Linked DNA regions of Homo sapiens. The protein of the gene in region 3 purifies or fractionates together with the protein of the main gene of each other region. This does not show direct contact. Each region holds a gene or a part of one and is shown on either strand. Other genes may lie near its edges.

What was found.
Region 1: the proteins of FOXP2 (region 3) and VSIG8 purify together in Homo sapiens (affinity purification with mass spectrometry; 2 studies listed by BioGRID and IntAct, with this or other methods). This does not show direct contact.
Region 2: the proteins of FOXP2 (region 3) and DSG4 purify together in Homo sapiens (affinity purification with mass spectrometry; 2 studies listed by BioGRID and IntAct, with this or other methods). This does not show direct contact.

Annotation. Positions count from the first base shown.
Region 1 is NC_000001.11:159,856,588-159,859,668, forward strand, and holds part of VSIG8 (V-set and immunoglobulin domain-containing protein 8 precursor), read right to left. Parts: intron 2,326-3,081; coding exon 2,147-2,325; intron 1,705-2,146; coding exon 1,503-1,704; intron 1,380-1,502; coding exon 1,158-1,379; intron 57-1,157; coding exon 1-56.
Region 2 is NC_000018.10:31,375,224-31,378,983, forward strand, and holds the start of DSG4 (desmoglein-4 isoform 2 preproprotein), read left to right. Parts: upstream 1-1,553; 5' UTR 1,554-1,688; coding exon 1,689-1,736; intron 1,737-3,760.
Region 3 is NC_000007.14:114,421,296-114,424,955, reverse strand, and holds part of FOXP2 (forkhead box protein P2), read right to left. Parts: intron 1-3,660. UniProt on the Homo sapiens protein: Transcriptional repressor that may play a role in the specification and differentiation of lung epithelium. May also play a role in developing neural, gastrointestinal and cardiovascular tissues.

The DNA.
Region 1 (3,081 bases), on a different chromosome or scaffold from region 3:
CAGCCCATCATCTGCTCTGGAGATATCCTTCAACACCAGGTCCCCATTGTTCAGGCCTGAAAGTGAAGTGGAGAGAGGCCTGGTCTCTGAGAGCTCCCACCCCAACCTCAGTCCCTGTGGGGTGGGGGATGGGACACCCACTCTAGAAGAAGGGAAGGCTTATGCATGTGTGTACACCCACACCCACACACACACACACACACTCCACTCTCCAGGTGAGTCACCTTCCCCCTGCTGTGAAAGAGATGCAAGAAAGGACCTCTCTCCCAGCAGCAAGACAGGGACACCATTAATTCACTCTGACCTTAGGGAAATATGTACGCTCTCTGAGCCTTGGTCTCCTCCTTTGTACAGTGAGGACAGGAGAAGCCAGGGGAAGAGGAACTCTAAGGTCCCTCCTAGCTCTATTATTCTTTGTTTGACTGAATATTTTCAGCTTCTCTATGTACTAGGAGCTTTACACACCTCCCCCATTTAATCCTTGCATGCCCATGAAAGGTATATGTTAGTATTCCCTTTCCATATATGAAGAAATTAAGGCACAGGGAGGGTAAGCCACTTGCCTTAAACTTGGAGCCAGTCAGTGTCCCAGCCAGGATTCAAGCCCAGCTCTGTCTGAGACCAGGCTCCCTCCAAATTCGCCATAGTACTTTTGACTGACTCTCCACATTTGCCTTATCATCTGCTCTCAATAGCAGCTGCTGGGCCAGGCACGGTGGCTCACGCCTGTAATCCTAGCGCTTTGGGAGGCCAAGGCGGGCGGATCGCCTGAGGTCAGGAGTTTGAGACCAGCCTGGCTAACATGGTAAAACCCCGTTTCTACTAAAAATACAAAAAATTAGCCAGGTGCGGTGGTGCATGCCTGTAATCCCAGCTACTCGGGAGGCAGAGGCAGGAGAATCGCTTGAACCCGGGAGGCAGAGGTTGCAGTGAGCCGAGATCATGCCATTGCCCTCCAGCTTGGGCAACAAGAGCGAAACTCTGTCTCAAAAAAAAAAAAAAAAATAGCAGCTGCTGGGGCAGGCCCAGAGGGAGGGTCTCCCACAGGGATTCCAGGTTTGATTTGATGGCACTGATAACCCAAGGAAACCCCAACAGGTCCCAGAGTCCCTGATCTTCCACTCACCCCCGACTGCCCTCATCCAGGGCCCTCTCACCTTGGTTTATGGAGCTGTGGAAGGACTCCTGGTAGGACAGCTCTGAGTGGTAGCTGTGCTGGGAGGTGTAAGACCCAGCTCGATAGGGGTAATGGTGCCCACTGATCTTGGCCCACTTGTAGGAGAGGGGCTGGGAGCCCCCACTGGCATAGCACTTCAGCACCACATCGTTGCCATATGTCATGTGGCCCTCTGTCCAGCACATGGGCACTGCAGGTCGTGCTGCAAGGAGGCAGACAATTGTAAGCCAGGGCCCAGCCAAGAGACAGAGCCAGGCTCAAAGTGGCCAAGCTGCCCTTGGCTCTTAAGCCAGGGGGAGAGGAGCTTAGAGGAGTCTGGCCATACCTTGGACAGTGACAATGACCTTCCGGGTGGCCATGGTGGTCTTCTTCACCCGGCACTCATAAGTGGCTGTATCAGATACCTGCAGGTTCATGAGGTTGATGGAGGCATCGTACTGGCTTGGGTCTGAGGCTGCAAAGCGGACCCTCTGCTGCAGATGGGGAAGGCTGCCATGGTTGATCCTCTTGTCCTGGTAACTAAGGAACTGTGAAGAGGAGAGGAAAACAGGTGGTGAAACAGGCAGAGCCAAGAAGGGCCATGTGGATTGGCTGCTTTGGGCAATTCACTGAACTTCTCTGAGACTCTTTTCTCAGCTGAAAAAATGAGAATAATGATGCCTGAGCCACTGACCTCTTACAGAACTGGTGAGATCAGGTGAGATCAAGCACTTGGAAAGATATATGGTCAGACTGGGAACTTTTTGAAGGCAAAGACTACAACTTATCTTCCTTTTAGAATGGGATGGGAGGAGGTAGACTGACTGGCTAGCTTAATTCACAATTGCAGAGCTCTCATCCCCATTGCCTCATTCCCTGAAAGGCCTTGGGGGAGGTTCAAGGTCAGTCTTCTCCCTTTGGGATGTTGGCTGTCCAACAGGTAGACATCATGAAGCCTAGAGGAAGGAGACCCCTGTGCCCAGCACTCACCACGTTCTCTCGGTGGTGGGCGGGGTCTGAGTTGACCTGCATCCACTCGATGTCCAGCCCATTGGGACCATAGTCCTCAGGGTCCAGGACGTAGGGGCAGCCCAGCCTCACATTATCACCTTCTGCCAGGTACAGGACCTCCTGTCCATCCCCGTTGATCCGCACAGCAGACAGCAGTGCTAGGGGGAGGGCAGAGAAGATGGGGTGGTAGGAGCAGAAGCAGGGCTTCAGGAGGAGTCAGTGTCAGCCCTTCCCTTCATATTCTCTGTCCACGGCACCCAGAGGTCAGCAGTGCTTTCATAAAAAGGAGGGCTGCTCGTAGTGGGTGTGTATGTGTGTGTGCATGAATTGTCACAGGCATATAACAGCTATACATATAGCTGTTATATATGTAGCTGTTATGTATGCTTGTATGTATATATGATTATGTGTATGCATGTATGAATATGTACACGTATGTACATTGTATGCTTATGAGTATTTGTGGCTGCTTATGTGTACTGTGAGGATATTCATGTACATGACCACGTAGCGTGTCTGCTTATATATTTATATGATAGTGTGGATGTGTTTGTGTGTGTGAAGGCATGTGGTACACACAGAGTTGTTAAATGCTCTGATAGAAGAGCCTGGCTGATTAAATGTCACCTATGTGGGCTCTGTCTGGGCTGAGTGAAGTCCTCCTGTCCAGAGGCAGCGGGGTGGTTACAATGGCTTCTGGGACTCCTCTCCAGCCTGAGAAGCCAAAGACTAAGTGTGTCTATGTGTGTCTGTGTATGACAGTGTGAGTCTGTGGCTGTATGCCTCTGTGTGGTTTTGTATAGTGATGTGTGACCATGTGAGCTATGTAAGTGCTTAAAAGTGACAGTGTGTGCTTGTGCATGACAGTGGACAGCTGTGACCAGGAGCCTGGCTGTGTTCGTGTGTGATAGTGA
Region 2 (3,760 bases), on a different chromosome or scaffold from region 3:
TTCATAATTATAATCTGGATTCAAATTCTGGATACCATTGAAATCAGGAGTTTCAAATGGAGAAAGCTAGAGGTACCCACATAAATGATCTAGTACCTATTTCTATTGCTTCCTGTTTCTTTTCTTTAAAACTCATCCTATAAATAGCATTCAAGTAGATAGAAAATCTTATATTTAGAAGAAAATATAAGAAAAATCTTATATGTAGAAGAAATCATCTATAGTGTAAACAAAAGATAGAGACCTTTGTGAAATATCTCCTTCAAACACAACAATAGAGAAGAATGTTGTTTTTCCCTTGTAAAAAGCAATGTCACTTAAAGACCTGGAGTTGTTTCATTAATTCTCTTAGGCAAATTAAATTATCTAATTCAACATGACATGAAATAATGCAAAAGTAAATTACTTTATCTGGCTTCCAAAAATACTAAAACTACTTTTCTCAAGAAACTAAGCAATACTTAGAATACATTCTATTACCAGGGTCAACCTTGTTTCTGAATTACAGTGATGGGATAGTGAAGACAGGAGGCAGTCTCCCTTTGAAATTCTCCAACCAACATGTATTATCTATCAATCAGAGAACAGTTAACTGCATTTTCTTTTAAGTTTATTGATGTTGCTGCCAGCCTGCAATGTTTGCATCAGGACACTCTATACCCTGTTTCAAACCCATACTAACAAAGGAAAAGGGAGACACGAAAAAGGGAAATAATATTCAAAAATATCCAGATCCCACTCTGGGCTTTTTTTCATTAAATTCTCACGTTTCCAACTTCAGTTTCTCCTTAATAAATATTTGTGGTGGTGTAAAATGTGTTCCTCACCCACATTATGTACTTTTTATCAGTGGTAATACTATGAGAAGTGAGAATGTTGTATTGTAGTTACTTTAAAATGATTTTGTAAATATCATATTGTAGAGGTTTGACTGAATAATCAAGAAAGAAAATGCCAAAGTATGGAAACAAACATACTGGTACTAGTTAAATCAGAGTTCCTTCATCTTAACTTTGTTATTTCAGAAAATCTTTAAAATTGAGAGTGCGGTTCAACCACAAGACATTTTAAAGAGAGAAGCAGGACTCAACTGAATTGAAATGAGCGTCATTATTCTATCTTTCTTCCTATACCATACTTGAGTCCTGATGACTTTCAACAATGGCCTCTGCTAAAAGTATCATTCCTTGAAGTGGGTTCTGCAGTGGACATGTGTGTGTATGTGTTGTCAGTATATGTAATTTTGCTTTTACAATGTTGGCAGTAAGAAGAAGCCTTCTAATTTTATTCAGCATGATGATAGGCCCTAGCATTTTAATTATTTTTTATGTTGTGAGTAATTTATTATTCACTGGCTATCTTCCCTGTAAATCTTGTCCTCGCTCTGTAAGGTTTTTCTTTGGTGTCCAACAAAGGGTTTCATTGCAATAAGAATCAAGGTGTGTCTAAATTCTTACCCAGAGCCCAAACAATGCCAGTCTTCCAGACCAGCCTGGGAGTTTGGGGTGGGGAAACAGTCATTATAGAATATCTTCATCTCTCTGCCCAGAGATCACCACAGTTATCACCCATGCCCTCCTAAAAGGGTGTCTCAAAGCATATCTTTCTGTAGAGCAGAATTCGGAACTGAGAAGACGAGGGCTCAAATTGAATCTCACAGGATTTGCGTGCAAGAGAAACCCAAAGGAATGGATTGGCTCTTCTTCAGAAACATTTGCCTTTTGATCATTCTAATGGTAAGTAGAATTTAAAGAGGTGGGAAGGAAATGCAGCCTCAAGGTCTTGTCTCTGTCAACTGTCGGGCTTTCTACATGGGATTTATTCCATTTTTAATCTCCTTCCTGCAAAGAGAGTTCTAGAAGTCCAGCCTCTGTTAATTTCAAACAACTCTCTCCGCCTTGAGGAACAAAATGCCATAGAGAAGCGGGGTGAGAATCTGGCTGAATTAAATTTATATGCCCTCAGAGACATAATCTACTTCACTTTGAGTGTTAGGACTATTCTAAAATTTTAAATTGGAAATAAAATTCATATTCTATGATCATATAAATAAATCAGATAGATTGCTGTGAAAACTGCCAGTGCAAATGGGTTCTAAATTTGAAGGGAAGTTAATCAAACCCATTTCTTTTCAATAGTTATTTCCCTATGAGTTTCTTTCAAAGTGGAGGAATGATAGCCATGTTGAAATTACATTGCAACTAATGATGACATACTAAAGTCATGAGAACTTTTTCCAGTCAGATATTGCTAAAGAAAAATGAAGCCCAGCCATCAAGACAAAACTTTTCTGGAATTATGAATGCATTCCTACAGACCAGCAAAGAAATATTTAAATGACTTATTTCTTTACAGTAAACATGGCATCTTGGATATTATATTTCTTTCCTCTAACCTTTGGGTGCCCAAGGTGTGACATGATTTCCAGACAGGCAGCATGCATAGCAAATATCCTACCCTAGAAAGAGATAATTCCAACTCCAAAGAAGAACAAAGTTCCAGTTGGCCAATCAACAAACTATTGCCAATTCTGGGAGGGTAAGAGGACAGGATTATTAGGAACTGTACAAATTTTTCAAAGTAAATTAAGACAAATGCATTATAGTTGGCCACACTTCAATCTCCCAGGAGTATCCAGGTTAGCGCTACAACCTAAGCTTAGAAAGTGATTCCCATCCTATTCTTAGGCAAGTGGCAATTATACCAGACTCCTCTGAACATCAGTTGTAAGAGACAGAGAGTAGCTAGGGCTGGGAGAGATGGGAGCACGTCATTGTCCAAGAGGCACAGTGAGAGCTACTCTTCTGGAATTCACATTTCTAAACTTCAAGAGCAGTGCGGGAGCCGAACACTGCCAAAGGGCACACAACCCCAAGCTCAAAAGGGAACGTGACAACAGTGGTAGAATATTGCATCCTCTGAGTTTAGGAGACAGATTATTAAACAATACCATTTTTGAAAAATATTTTTAAACTTAAAAACATAAGACGAAGGGCAATATTCTGTTACAATGATCATTATTTATTTACTAAATAAAATAAATGTTACTAAAAGAAGAGGCAAGAATCGGACTTGGTCTTCAATTGAAATAGTAAGTTATGAGGATATACCTCTTGTTACTCTTCTACCGAGTATATTCATGCTTTGACTCAGATAAACTTTTGGTTTTCTGTAAGGAAAATTGTATGTGTCAAGATTTTAGAGGCCACTTCTGAGCACTAAATCTTGCCTCCCATTGCCTTCTGCACAGGCATGATTTATGATAATATTATTTAATTGAAGAGTTGATTCTTCTCCTTGATCTTGAAAGAGTATTATACTTCAGACTCTCAGGATCTTTTTTTGGTAGTATTTATTTATTTTCCTTGGTAATACTAGCGTTTTTAATACTTAATTCCTCCTACTCCTCATTGATATTGAAGTCTTTGTGTTTGACATTTCACGGTAATTGTGAAAAAGTTCTTTAAGTATTTTTTTTCTTTATGCTTGTCTAAAAGATCCCTTACCATATCAATTAATAGTGTCTGGAATTGGGAGGTAGAGACTTCTGGCATATTTCAAAATTGAAACAAATACAAGAATTGTTTAAGGAGAATCAATGAGATGTTATAGATATTATAGGAAAGTAGACATGCCTACTTCTCTTTAATTTCCTGAACTTGAACTCTGCCCCTTCTTCATTAACTAAATCAAAGACTCTCTGGGGCATCATTGCAGCTTACACTAATGAGGGTGTGGCAGCCTCTCAGAGACTCACAGG
Region 3 (3,660 bases):
AATTACTTTTCCTACTCTTATCAAGTCCATTAAAAAAAAAGACATACTGATTTAGTAAAAAACGTCAATAGCTGGACTAGCAAAGCAAGTTAGTGTAACAAAAATTACATATACAACTTAAAGCTGTTTGGATAATAAAAAAACAACAGAAAACATGAGCAGAAAGGAAATAATTGCTGTAACTATAGTAAACAATTTTTGAGCGAAATGTGTTTATAAACAAATAGGTTTTGCTAAACATCTTATTGAACATTAACAAAGAAAAAATCATATAAATTAAAACTGATACATAGTGATGGATTTTATAAGAAAAAAACAAAGCTAATACTCTTTTCTGAGATTAGGCAGCTAATAAGTATTCAAATTAGGCATAAATTTTACATGCACAATGTTTAAAATATTCAGAGAAAAGGTCTGATTGCCTTTACTAGTTATATGAAAATTATAATTTCAATCCTCTCCAACTGTAGAAACAGATAGGCATAACTTTTACATATTGCATTTAAATTTTACTTTTGAGAACATGTCTGGAATATGTGTATATATGTGTATGTTTTTATTTCATCACCTAAGTTATTTGAAATATTTATTGTTTCTGGATGGAGTTAGCAACACAAGGAATAAAAATAAAACACTATATTTTCCAGTGTAGCAGACAGGTGCAGCATTTACTACTAACCTTTGTGTAGTAAATCTCAGGACCAATTGGATGAATTAAAGAATTCTACATGTATTACTGTGTCATAATCAAGGCCATCAAATAATTAAGAATAATCAACAAGCAAAGAGGCATGTGTCTAAATCTTTATTACAATTACGAAGAAAGACCTAAATAACTTATAATTCCTTTTAACTAAAGGATTTTATTCTTAGCCCTTGTGGAGTTTTTAACTTTATAAAACCCTACAGTATAAACTGTTATTTACATTTTAAGTTCAATCATCTAAGAGTTAGTAAAATAATGCTTAAGAAAACTATAACAGTGATAGTACTTTTTGCTCTACAAAAGAGGAGTATCTGATACAACACTTATATGAAAAAAGAAGGGTGATTGTGTAATTAGATGATTATACTGTACATTTCACTTAAAAAAGCTTGGAGTATGTTCACTATAAAGGAGGAATTTTTCAAGGACAATGCAGATTATTTCTAGCATTTACTAAGTTTCTCTTGGTAACACTTCCACTTATTTCCCAATATAGGAAATATTTCCAGCACAATGTGAAGTGCTGTTTACCTTTTAAGTATATTTTAAATAATAATAAATTCAGCATATTCTTTCAGAGTGGATGTGCTTATGATCCGAAACATACCAAGCTAAATTATTCATTCTTATCAATCCCACCACAAACATTTTACAAAAATCAGTGAAAATAAATTCCAGATCATTAAAGGGAAAGATGAATCTGGGAGTCCCTGTTTTAATGTTTGTCTGAACTGTAAGTTAAACCCTTAAGTCTTTCATCGTACACAACTTTTCAGCCACATCAGAAAATAACTCTTCAGATCTTACACTCAAACGATACAGTTAGACTTTTCTCCCCTGCATTAAGTTTTCCTTCCTTTCCTTTTTCTTTCTTCTTTTTTAAGCAAGTCACTGTACAGATACTTATTCTCTACACCACTTCCCTTTTGAAACATTAAACTGACACTGGAACTGACTGCACAAGATTGCATTTTCTCTTCCTAAACAACTTGAATTGAAAGGTTACTTAGTGTAACAATATTTACTTGCAGAATTGTGTTGTTACCAAGGGTATAATGGATGGTGGCTATGCAGGTTTACGCAAGAATGAGTGAAGCATGAGGCATTAGCCATGTGTTTGACATGTTTCAAATTGCTATAATCCAGCATTAAACACACCCAGCAATTCATGCCATTTCTTGCAGCCATAATCTTGAATAAAGCGTGCACAACCACTTATTATATAAATTAGTATATGACTCCCTGTTATAGTCACAACAGTGCTTTTGTGTTTATTTTGCATCAAGATGTAGTCTTTTATTTGTACAAATAGCAGGATATAAAGACATAGCTCAATTAGGCCTCCTTACTTTATGATAGGGTAGTACTGAATGCTAGACTTGTTGGTTTTATTTCTTCCTCGTAGAGTTATATGTTCTATTGGTATAAAACTGTATCATGTGAGATAGTTACATGCCAGAGTGATAACAGAAACCTGCATGTATCCTATTCCGTATTCGCAGCAATGTTTAAAAGTTTGAAACTTGACCTGGACAAGCATAGTTAATTGTGTTATCTCAGCCACCACCAGGGACACTACTGGTCCTTGTTGCTTACTCAACTTTCTCTATGGTCTTCTTTCTCATCTCTTCTCCTTCCCTGTTTCTTATGCTCCCTATCTCTTTTCCACTCCACATTCCCATGTGTATATGTGTGCACATGAATATGTGTATCTATATATGTTTATAAAGATAGATCAATCAATCTGTCTATGTATGTCAGGGATTATAAAGAAGATAAAAATAGCCTCTACTTTGAACCACACTCTGCATTCTACATAAACAGTCTGTCTTATAATCTTAGTGCCTTAATATTAACTCTCATTTTGGTGGAGGAGTCTTACTATTTAATCAAAACAAATGGATGAAAAAAAAATGACTTCCCAGAAAACTAAGAACAAATAACAGTACATATAAAACATTTCTAACAATTCATTTCGTCAACTTTTCTTAAACAAAATGATTACAGTGACCTTGAAAGACACTTTATGTCTAATATCTGATTCATTCCAGTGTCCAATTTATTTAATCAAACATATGCATTAAATCCAAATAGTTTTGAATATGACATTTTAAGAAAAGTAAGGCATCAAATTTAAAACATATATTCTTAAATACCTCCTTAATCTTTGATCAATTATCAATATCAAATATTAAATATTTCTATGCAGATTCACACAAGAAAGAGTTAAATATTAAGAAAACTTAACATATGTAACAAGAAACCTCATACGTTTACCTCAAAATATTAGTTAAGTTCTAATTTTGAAAACTTGACTGTGATTTAAAACTTCTGAAAGAAACTAGCGTTTAAATAATGATAACTCTTGTGCTCTAGTGGAATTAATTCATCATAGGCACCATGCATAGTGCATTTGAGATCCAGCACTGCTTTGCTAAAAGTCTTTAATGCTAAGATTGCCTAATAAATCAAAATGCCAAATATGAAGGATATAGTTGAATGTGTAAGAACAAAAATTGAAACAGCACATGAATATTTTCAATTTTTAAAAACTGAAGCAGGATGTCTTTTAAAACATGATTTGGGGAAGGTTATCTGTTATAGCAAGTGATATTTTTACTATACCAAGTGACATAATTTTAAGTAAATTAAAATTAACTTGTTTATTAAGTATTTGTTACTACTTTTTACTTATTTAAACAAAATGCCTAAAATGCTATACACAAATTAGAAAAAAAAACACTTTAGTAAAAATTCAGACTTTCATTCAAAAAGGTTAATATTTCAAACATGCAAAGTAGAAGGACATTTTAACAAAATATTTTTTAAATGATAATGACTACATTTTAGCAAAGATAATACTGTTAGATCTTCAACAATAACAAAATCTAGGAAACATAAGTAAAGCCAATGAAAAACTTATCTTCCATTTCAATCAGCTATTAATTAACTTA